Regions from separate parts of the Homo sapiens genome. Here region 2 is linked to region 1. The links come from fine-mapping of genetic effects on gene expression. A gene starts in region 1. The other region holds a variant in brackets. All regions are shown on one strand. Distances are from middle to middle.

Region 1 (5,372 bases):
AGGGGCCAAGTAGTATGAAGAGGGGCAGGTTGAGATTGAAAGAACGAGTAATAGAGAAGGGATAATTGAGTATAGGGGTTCAAGGATGAAGGCCTAGGCAGAGGCCTCAGAAAGTACAGTCTTGCACCTTGATGGGGGTACACCTTGGTGGGGGTCAGAGAGTTCCAAAGCAGGCTGAGATGCCCCTTCTGGAAGATTCCTTGACTCTTCTCTTTCTCTCCCCCTCCATATTCAGTTCTTCAGAGAATTTCATTGACTCTGCTTTCTAAATGCTTTCAGACTCCACCCATTTCCACAACCTGCATCAGCACCACCCTAGTTTAAGCTGTGATCATCTCTCACCTGCGCAATGGAAAGAACCTCCCATCCAGTGTCCCTTGTCCACCCCTACCATCTGATGCTCTATTCTTACCCAGCAGCCAGAGTGAGCCAAGCTCCTCAGGTTAGAAGGTCCTACTAGATTTGGCCTCTTTGACCTCTCTGATCACATTCCTCCTTCTCCTTCTGTTTTATGCCATTTCAGACACACTAACACACCTTTAATTTTCTGAACATGTTATGGGGCTTTGCACTTGCTGTTCCCTGCACTTGGAATCTTCTTACTCCAGAAATCTCCAGCGCTCACACACTCCCTGTAATCAGGTCTCGCTCAAATGTCACTTCCTCTGAGGGGTCTTTTCTGACCACCTCACCTAGCAAAGAGTCCTTCTTCCCACTGGAACCCCCAAACATACACACTATTTCTTTTCCTTTCTGTTTTTTATTTGTTTGTTTGTTTGTTTTGGAGATACTCTCGCTCTGTTGCCCAGGCTGGACTGCAGTGGTGTGATCTCAGCTCGTTGCAACCTCTGCCTCCCAGGTTCAAGCGATTCTCATGCCTCAGCCTCCCAAGTAGCTGGGACCACAAGTGTGCACCACCACGGCTGGCTAATTTTTGTATTTTTTGTAGAGACAGGGTTTCGCCATGTTGGCCAGGCTGGTCTCGAACTCCTGACATCAAGTGATCCCCCTGCCTTGGCCTCCCAAGGTGCTGGGATTATAGGCATGAGCCACTGTGCCCGCCCACACATTTCTATACTCCACTTTTCTTCAGAACACGTTACATTATATTATATACTTGTTTCATTGTCTGTGTTTCCCACCAGAATGTAAGCTTCATGAGAGCAGAGACTTTTCTTAACACGTAGTAGGTGCTCAATAAATAAATGAAGGAGTCTAGCAAATGGGAACTGAGAGCTGCCAGAGTCACGGGTGTCTCTGGGAAAGAGGTAATAATTAACACACAAGGAAAGATTCCTGGTTGGGCACAGTAGCTCATGCCTGTAATCTCTGCACTTTGGGAGGCTGAGGCGGGCAGATCACCAGGTCAGGAGTTCAACACCAGGCTGCCCAACATGGTGAAACACTGTCTCTACTAAAAGTACAAAAATTATCCGGGTGTGGTGGTGCACGCCTGTAGTCCCAGTGACTCAGGAGGCTGAGGCAGGAGAATCACTTGAACCCGGGAGGTGGAGGTTGCAGTGAGACAAGATTACACCACTGCATTCCAGCCTGGGTCACAGAGTGAGAACCTGTCTCTTAAAATAAAATGAAAAATAAAACGTATATCTGATAACCATAGTCCCTTACTCAACACCTTCAGTGGCTTCCCAATGGTCCCAACCCCTTAACACACCATACAATGCCCTCTAGGTTCTGGCACTCGATTTCTTCTCAGCTCATTTCTTGTCACTTCTCTCCTACAGTCAAGTTTGGGCCCAGCAGACTGTCCTGGTCCTCTAACTGGGCTCCTTTCTGGGCCTGCAGAGGTGCTGTTTCTTCAGTCTGCGATTCCTTACCTCCCCTCTGTCTCTTCCTCTGCTGCTGCCTTCTGTTCTTTGGCATTCAACCGAGTTTTCCTTTCCTCTGAGAAGCCTGGGACCTACCCCGACCAAAGCTCCCTCCTCCTTGCCCCTCCCCCAATAACACAGGGTTGGGGTCTCTGCATTTGCTTCCTCAACACTGTACTTTTCTTGTCATGTCTATTTTATGGTCTGTGTCCCCACTAGACTGCAAGTTGCATGAGGGCAGGGCGGTCTATTCTGCTTTGGTCGCCTCGTGACGGTGTCTACCCAGCAAGTTGTGTGTGTTGGGTAAGTAGTGAGAAAACGAAAAAGCACTTGCTTTACAGGGCGGTTGGTCATAAAATAATAATAGCTTATATTTACTGACCACTTGTGATGTATCAGGCACCATTCTAAATGCTTTACAAGTATGTCACAGATTTCTCCCATAACCCTCTTAAGTAAGGGTTATTTCCTCCACATAGCAGATGGGGAAATTGAGGCACAGAGAGGTTAAGTAACTTGCCAAGGGCCACAGCGAGGAAGTGGAGGAACCGGCGTTAGAACCCAGGCTGTTTCCAGAGTCCAAATTCTATCCAAGAGTGAAGTGCAATATGGGGTTCCACTTCGTGAACAGATTCAAGTCTCCAAAGGGCTTTGTTTTTGTTTCCAGGAGGAAGGACGAGCTTCTGTGCCGCCGGCTTCCCAGGTTATGGGTGGCCAGCTGGGCTTTGGGAAGGGCCTGTACATCTCGCCGGCGGCCCCGGAGTCTGGGTGTGAAGCCCTGATTAACTTGCCGGGCTGCTCGGCCCACACGCCAGCCCTGCCCAGGTCCTCCGGTGCCCCGGGCCACCCTCATGCCCCCGCCAGGCCCGGGGCCGGGACTCGCGTCTCCAGGGGCGGGGCCGGGGGCGGGGCCGGGCCTCTCTTCGAGGCCGCCGCCCTGGCCCCGCGCTCGCCTCGCCGAGTGCGGCGGGCCGGGCTGGAGCTGGAGGGGCGGGGACTCGGGAGGGGCCGCAGCGCGGCTGCTGGTGCCGTTGCGGGAGAAGAGGAAGCGGCGCGTCCCCTGAGGCGTGCGCCTGGATGGACTGAAGGACGGTCCGACGCGCGCGGAGGGAGAGGGCCAGGGGCGAGGTCAGGCTCGGCGGGGGCGCGGGCGGCGCCCGGAGGGGGCCCCGGGGAGGGAGGCGGGGAGGCGTGGAGCGGGGAGCGGGGAGCGGGGAGTGGGGAGCGGGCCCGCGCCGGCTGAGCTCCGGGTCGGGCCCGAGACCCCTCCCCTGGCTGGGCGGGCGCGCTGCGAGCGCGCTCCGGCAGCTGAAAGCGGAGCTCCGGACTCCCTTCTTCCCCGGTTTCTTTTCTTTCCAATCAGCGAGATATAAACACCCTGCAAGGTAAAACAATAGCGGGGCCACCTGGGACGCGTCGCGCGCAGAGCTCCCACGGTTGGGGCGGGGGCCGGGAGTCGCGGCCCCACCGCGGAGCCCCTTCCCGATTTGCCCTGGCGGAGGGTGGGGCTACCTGCGGCGCCCGGGCTCGGTAGGAGGTGACGGGAATTCCCAGGAGTGAAGCATTTGGTGGAAGTATTTCAGGAACAATCGGGCTTCCCACTGTTGCCCTGCTCTGGGCAGGGAAACTGAGGCGGAGGGAAAGACAGAGACTTGCCCAAGGTCAGAATGCAGAGGTTGACTGTCCTGGTCCAGGAACCGGACCCAGGTGTCCGGACCAGCTCAGCGCTCAGCCCCAGTGGGTTTTGCAGCTTTGCCTTTGATAAAAATCTCTGTTGTGTTTGTTTTAGAAATCTGCTCGCGCTGGGGTACCGCTTCAGGGCTGCCGAACGCCAACTTGCTTCGTGTGCCCTAGGCAGGCGTGGGGCAGGTGGCGCCTCCGTGACCTACCACCATGGATGGAAACGGACTTTTTGGTGAAGAAACCCAAACGGTTGATGCCAGGCAGGGTGATTTGGCCGTCAAAGGTTTTGACGAAACCTGCCCTGTTCTCTCTGGGGAATCCGAATGAGGGAGATCACAGACACCTTCACTGAGAAGCCAAGGACATTTCTGTATAATCAGTGGATGAAAGGATTTTCTCAGACCCTTTTTTCCGTGCTTCTGGAGGATTAATCCACTACAGTCTGCAATTTCAGTGGAAACTGCAAGGCACACGATGTGGCAGGAGCCGGGAGCGACTTCCGAATTGTTGTGGACCCTTCCTGTAGCATAGGGGAGTTTTCACACTTGCCTCCACTCCTCCCCTTCCCCCCAACTCCCTCCTTCTGATCTCTTCTTTTTAATCTGTTCCCATTTTCCGAGTTAAGTTCTATTTCCAAAACTGTTCTCTGGAGCTATAAGTGGATTGCCAGAAATGAGAGATTAGGAGCTGGGAGAAGAGGAAGCGCCTTGTGTTGTGTCTCCTGGAGGCTGCCGACATGAAGTGCTTTTTCCCGGTGCTGAGCTGTCTGGCTGTGCTGGGTAAGTGGCTCTGCTTATCAGTGCAATCGATGTGAAAGTTTAACCTGCTCTTGGTTCCTGTAATTTCTCGTGGTTCTTTTTCATCAACACTAGGATTTGGGGGACACCAGGAGGCGGTCGGTGTGTGTCACAGGTTGGAGTAGAGTACGAAGAGGCCCGTTTCTAACCCAAGAGCAACGGTGGAATATCATTTGTTATCTATAAGAAGGAACATTTGCTGTTCTTAAAGTGTCTGTCTTGGCCCCTGGGGTGAGGTCCTGCATCTGCACATCTGTGGTTTAGGGACTTCACATGGCTGGTGGGCTGCTGTCTTGTAGCATGTCAAACATGGATGCTCTGGTGTTTTCACTTCTTTGTTGGGCTGCATTGATTCCTAATTGGGAGTGGGAACATCATTCCCCTCTGTCTCGAAAGTTGGTTTGGGTGATAATGATGGTGCCTTTTTTGAGGTGGAAATGGGAGTAAGTGGGATGGGGGTTGAAGGGATGCTTTGCCTACCTGAGTGGTCTGAAGGCTAAAAATGTGAGGGCACTAGTCCTGTGTCTCCTCACCAAGGAAGCTTAGATCGTAGTTCTGGGAGAAGGAGAGCCTGAAGAAAAGGAAGCTGCCTGGTAGGGGAGATTTTAGGATTGGCTTTTGTGCTCCCACAAATCAGAATGCCTAGAGTGGGAAGAAGAAACTATGGCCCTGAGAGGTGAACCTTTGACACCCCTCTTAAGGTGCAGATGCAGGACCTTCACCCCAGTGAAGAGGCCCCTCTGCTCAACAATTGCCTATTCTTTTTATGCCATTGAGCACTGTCTTCAGCGTGCTGTCTTAGAACACATCTCAGGTCTAGGATAAACTTCATTGCCAGGATTTGGTGCCATTCTCTTTCCCCATCTCAGACCTCATACATGAGCACACCCCCTGCCCTCTCTGTAAGGCTCGGTCCTCTGCATTCAGAAGGGATTATGATTGTTGCCTACAGGGTTCACGTCTCCAAATCTAGGTGTCTTGCACGTAGGGAACTTAGGGTGATCTGTTGGCAGTGGAGATTGCTTCCATGCATTGTCTACACCCTTGCAGTAGGTAACAGGTG
Region 2 (5,372 bases), 44 kb before region 1:
TGGTCACCAGGGCTGCTTTTAACTCTGGTAAAGTGGATATTGTCGCCATCAATGATGCCTTCAATGACCTCAACTACATGGTCTACATGTTCCAGTATGATTTCACCCATGGCGAATTCCATGGCACTGTCAAAGCTGAGAACAGGAAGCTTGTCATCAATAGAGATCCCATCACCATCTTCCAGGAGCTAGATTCCACCAGAATCAAATGGGGTGATGCTGGCACTGGGTATGTTGTGAAGTCCACTGACATCTTCATCATGGAGAAGGCTGGGGCTCATTTGCAGGGGGAGCCAAAGGGGTCATCATCTCTGCCCCCTCTGCTGATGCCCCCATGTTCATGATGGGCTTGAACCATGAGAAGTAGGACAACAGCCCCAAGATAGTCAGCAATGCTTCCTGTGCCATCAACTGCTTAGCACCCCAGGCCAAGATCATCCATGACAACTTTGGTACTGTGGAGGGACTCGTGACCACAGTCCACACCATCACTGCCACCCAGAAAACTGTGGATGGCCCCTCCAGGAAACTGTGTCATAACAGCCGCAGGGCTCTCCAGAACATCATCCTTGCCTCTACCGGCACTGCCAAGCCTGTGGGCAAGGTCATCCCTGAGCTGAATGGGAAGCTCACTGGCATGGCCTTCTGAGTCCCCACTGACAATGTGTTGGCCAGGAACCTGACCTGCTGTCTGGAAAAACCTGCCACATATGATGACATCAAGAAGGTGGTGAAGCAGCATCAGAGGGCCCCCTCAAGGGCATCCTGGCCTACACTGAGCACCAGGCTGTCTCCTCCGACTTCAACAGTGACACCCACTCCTCCACCTTTGATACTGGGGCTGGCATTGCCCTCAATGACCACTTTGTCAAGCTTATTTCCTGTTATGACAATGAATTTGGCTACAGCAACAGGGTGGTGGACTTCATGGCCCACATGGCCTCCAAGGAGTAAGACCCCCAGACCACCAGCCCCAGTGACAGCATGAGAGGAAGAGAGAGGCCCTCACTGCTGGGGAGTTTCTGCTGCACTCAGTCCCCCATTGCACTGAGAATCTCCCCTCTTCACAATTTCCATGCAGATCCTCTGAAGAGGGAGGGGCCTAGGGAGCCCCATCTTGTCACGTACTATCAATAAAGTCCCCTGTGCTCAGGAAAAAAAAAAAATCCCATTTACAATAGCATTGAAAAGAAAAGTTCATTTCTGCTCCTGTTGTCAGCAGCTGTGGCTCTGCTCTGCATGTCTTCTTGTTCCAGGATCCAGCTGTAAAGCAGACCCATCCTGGACACACCGTTTTGTGGCCGAGGGAGAAGAGGGCCCGCAGACCCACGTGGTGCTTCTTCAAGCCACTGCTCACCAGGTGGCACAGGTCACTTCTGCTTACACCCTATTAGCCAAAGCAAGGCCCCTGTCCAGGCCTGAGGGAGTGGGGAGAGGACCTACGCCTCTCCCATAGGCCACAAAGGGAGGGTAAGGGATAACTGGGGACAAGAATAGGATTTGCCACACTCCTTGTTTTTAAATGTTAGCAACTGAATTGAAAGTATCATAAATGCTGGGCAGAGCCAACTAAAACACAAGAAACCATGAGCCATGGATGTACAACCTCTAATTTAAAAAGTCAGAAATGGAGTGAAAGCCTTGTTCTCTTCCTTGAGACACACACACTACCTCAGTCTCCTGAGTTTAACAGTCCTCTCAAAAAGGAAAAGTGGTTACTTTGCCTTTAACATTATGGGTGAATCTATACTAGTTCCTAGTGTAACCCAGCACCCCTGTTTTTCTAGAGGTGATTTAATTGTTTTTTTCCTTCTCTCTCTCTTCTTTTCTCATCTCCCTGGCCCCCTTAGCCCTTCAGAAATGCAAATATAACCATTCTCCTCCCCATCACCTGGCTTTCCCTACAGGGCAAGTTTTTCTAACTGTGTGCTCCAAGACGGATCTCTCCTTGAGAGCTGGCAGTCGATTTGCAGACCAAAGCACACCCACCAAGGAATTTTCACATCCAGAGGTTGCCTCGGAACTTCCATCTTCCCAGGGTTGCCTCAGGACTTTCATCCACCAGGAGGGGAAATCGAAAGCACACCCGCTTGGCCACTTTTTCAACTTACTTCTGCCCAGGAAGCGCCAACTCATCATCAAGCTAGGAGGGAGACCCCCTGCCCTTGCTCATTTCCTCCCTTACCTTATAAAAATCCCTGCTTTCTGCTCCCAAAGTGAAGCAGCACATTTTAAGGCAGGACCCTTTGTGCCCCTTCCCCAAGCTAACTTTGGAATCAATTTGCTTTTTTTTCTATCAGACCTTGCTCTTGTTAACTGGACTCCACATACAGCGAGCAACTAACCTGCATTTTAGTTACACTGGTAATCACTACTTCCTTTTGTAGGTGCTCATAAATTCTCTTTAAACAATTTATTCATAAATATGACCAGAATCTAGGTCATTTGCCGTTCTGTAATCTCCAGAACTCAACTTCTATTTCTTGCACTTAGGACATTTGCCTGGGTCCAGTGCTATGGCACCATTTTTGCTCACTACAGTCCCACAAAGATTATTGATAGAACTGAGCAATGCATTTGCAAGATCTCTTAGCACCCAAGGGTAAAATGTTTTTGGGCCAAGAAACTTGACACCACTTCCAATTGCATGAAGCTCTTTTACACTCCCTTAACTACTTTTTTATCCTGGACCCTATCATTGTCTTTAAGAACCATATGGGTAGAATCTGGAAGAAACTGCCATTCAAACCAGCATTACTTTTTGTTCAGAAAGAAGATGGTGAATTACTCAGGGTTGTCCAGA[G/A]GGACAGAACAAATAGGATACATATATATAAGATACATATACATTTGTATATATACACATATATATACATGTATCCTATTGGTTCTGTCCCTCTGGAGAACCCTGAGTAATTGTATATGTGTGTGTATATATGTATGTGAGTTTATTAGGGAGAATTGGCTCACACAATTACAAAGGCAAAGTCCCACAATAGGGCTTGCAAGCTGGAGAATCAGAAAAACCAGTAGCTTGTCTCAGTCCAAGACCTAAGCCTCAAAACCAGGAAAGCTGACAGTGCAGCTCCCAGTCTGAGACTGAAGGGCTGACAGCACCCCAGAGGTCACTGGTACAAGTCCCAGAGTCCAAAAGCCGAAGAACCTGGAGTCAGATGCCCAAAGGCAGAAGGAGAAAAGGAGGCCTGCTCTAGAAGGGAGAGAGAAAGAGAAAGCCCCAGCAAGCTGCATATGCCCCTTCTGCCTGCTTTCTTCTGCCTGCTTTCTTCTGCCTGCTTTTTTCTGCCTGCTTTGTTCTGCTGTGCTGGCAGCCAACCAGACAGTGCCCATCCACAGTGAGGGCGGGTCTTCCTCTCCCACTCCACTTACTCATATGTCAGTCTTCTCTAGAAACACCCTCACAGACACACCCAGAAAAAGTGCTTCACCAACCATCTAGGCATCCCTCAAGCCCATCAAGTTGACACCTAATATTAACCATTACAGAATTCATCTGAACAGTCAGCCCTTGGGTCACACTTCATGGGTATTTTTGTTACACACATATGCCTGGAACAAGTGCCCAGTGTGCTCTTTGGAACAATTATAAAGTCATCATTATTCTGGATGATGATTTTAGGTTTGGATGATAAATGTTTTGTTTTGGTTGTGTATGTTTTTGGATATGGTCAAGCCTGAGCTAAGTCTCTATAATTTTCTTGCTTTCCAGGAAGGAGTGAAATATTTCTTAACTCGGTAGGAATGTAGTGAATTACAGTGTTTGCTTATCCTTGCAGAGTGGAGAGTGTTTTTTGCCAGAGCAATTGTTTGCAATACCAGCCAGCCCAGAGGACTACAGAAGGACATTCAGGCAGAATATTCACCTCTCCCTAGAAGACAGCCTATAAAAGAGAACTAAGTGTGTTCAATGGACAGTTTCTGCCCTTCAAGTGGCATTATTGAAGTATAATGACCCCAAAGCCCTTGAGACTATTGTGTTCTGATGGGGCTGTTGTACTGGGTGCCACAGGATGAGATCATAGGCCTGGAGTGAGGGCTGGGTTTCCTGGGAGAATAGATGTCCCATCATTGGTCACCAGGGAGGAGCAGGTGTTGGGCAGAAATAAGTGCAGGGAGGCAGCTTGAGAATCCCTTCCCCTTTCTGGGTCTTGGGTGGGGTGGGGCTGGGATTCTAGGCAGAGCAGACCTGATTTGAGGGCACTTGCACTGTGTGCAGTTGTGCTGGCTCATGCCACATGACAGGATAGGAGCCCTGTAGGAAGACAGTGCAGCTTTGTCCAACAGAGTGTGGCCAAGCTGTGCACCCAAGGGCTGCCCTTGCTGGGAGAAAGGCACGCCTTCTTCTTGACACAAAGGTACCACCTACTAACCGAACCCTTACCTGACAAGGACCTGCCCACCAAGTGGGATCTCTGTCTTCTAATGTATCTGCCTGCCTTGCAGGTGGGGAGAGGGGACACATTTTTCTATTTTTTTCAGCCTGGTGAAGCTTTTTCTGCCCACAAAGACATCTTCTGCATGCCAAGCCATCAGCCTGCTTAAGGTGGGTACATTTTCATCACCGGGCATTTCTAAATCTGAGTCTGAGGATCCTGAAATTCACAACATCTTTTAATTGTTGTTAGTTATTATCCGCCTTGTTCTTTCTTTCTTTAGCTTTTTAAAAATTAAAATAGCGACAGCATCTCGCTATGTTGCCCAGGCTGGTCTCGAACTCCCAGGCTCGAGCAGTCCAGTCATCCTGGTCTCCCAAGTGTTGGGATTACAGGCATGAGCCACCTTGTCCAGCCCTTTCTTTCACTTTTGAATGTTTATTATACACTTGTTAAAGAGTCAGAGATTTACTGAGCTCCTACTGCCTACCAAACCTGTTTTAGACCTTGGGGTTACATAAGTGGGGGTGTGGGTGGGGTACAAAAATTCCTGCACTTGTGCAGCTTGTGTATTAGAGAGAGGATTGTGCTCTGGGGACTCAGGGAATGCTGTGTCCTGTGCTTAGGATGGAAAGCAAAGGGAAGTCCGGCATCCCTCATCCCAGGTGCTGGCAGCAGCAGAGCTGGCTAGCTATGCCCTGCAAAGGGTCCGTATCCTGAGTGTCATTAGCATCAGGGGATGATTTGGGGTAGTGAACAAGCATTTGCAGCTCCGCACCCAGAGAGAATCTCAGAAATATCTGAGGAACCCTTTGCGAGGGCTAAATTCTGGTGGGGTATTTAATGGGTGTGTGAAGTCTGCTCAGAGCAATTTTATGTGGCTTTGTTTCCCTCTAATCAGCACTAATTCTGCCCTTTCCAGTCTGAAGATGGGTCTTCTTGACTGAGAACCAGGATGTAAAGTACAATTTGAGGAGTTCTGCC

Evidence for each region. PIP is the estimated chance that this variant, and not a neighbour inherited with it, causes the effect. A credible set is the group of variants that fine-mapping cannot tell apart.
Region 2: its variant is the best candidate, but not a certain one, in a credible set for the expression of IGSF3 in aorta (GTEx, PIP 0.79).

The regions. Positions count from the first base shown.
Region 1 is chr1:116,665,203-116,670,574 of GRCh38, reverse strand. IGSF3 (immunoglobulin superfamily member 3) reads left to right here and starts at 2,842. Exons shown (of 11, transcript NM_001007237.3): 1 at 2,842-2,957; 2 at 3,619-4,291. The coding sequence starts at 4,249. RefSeq lists a silencer at 2,608-2,997.
Region 2 is chr1:116,709,415-116,714,786 of GRCh38, reverse strand. LOC105378926 (a long non-coding RNA gene) reads left to right here and starts at 4,298. Exons shown (of 3, transcript XR_947741.3): 1 at 4,298-4,370; 2 at 4,495-4,558. It also overlaps the pseudogene GAPDHP64. The variant G/A (reference allele first, on the strand shown) is at 2,804.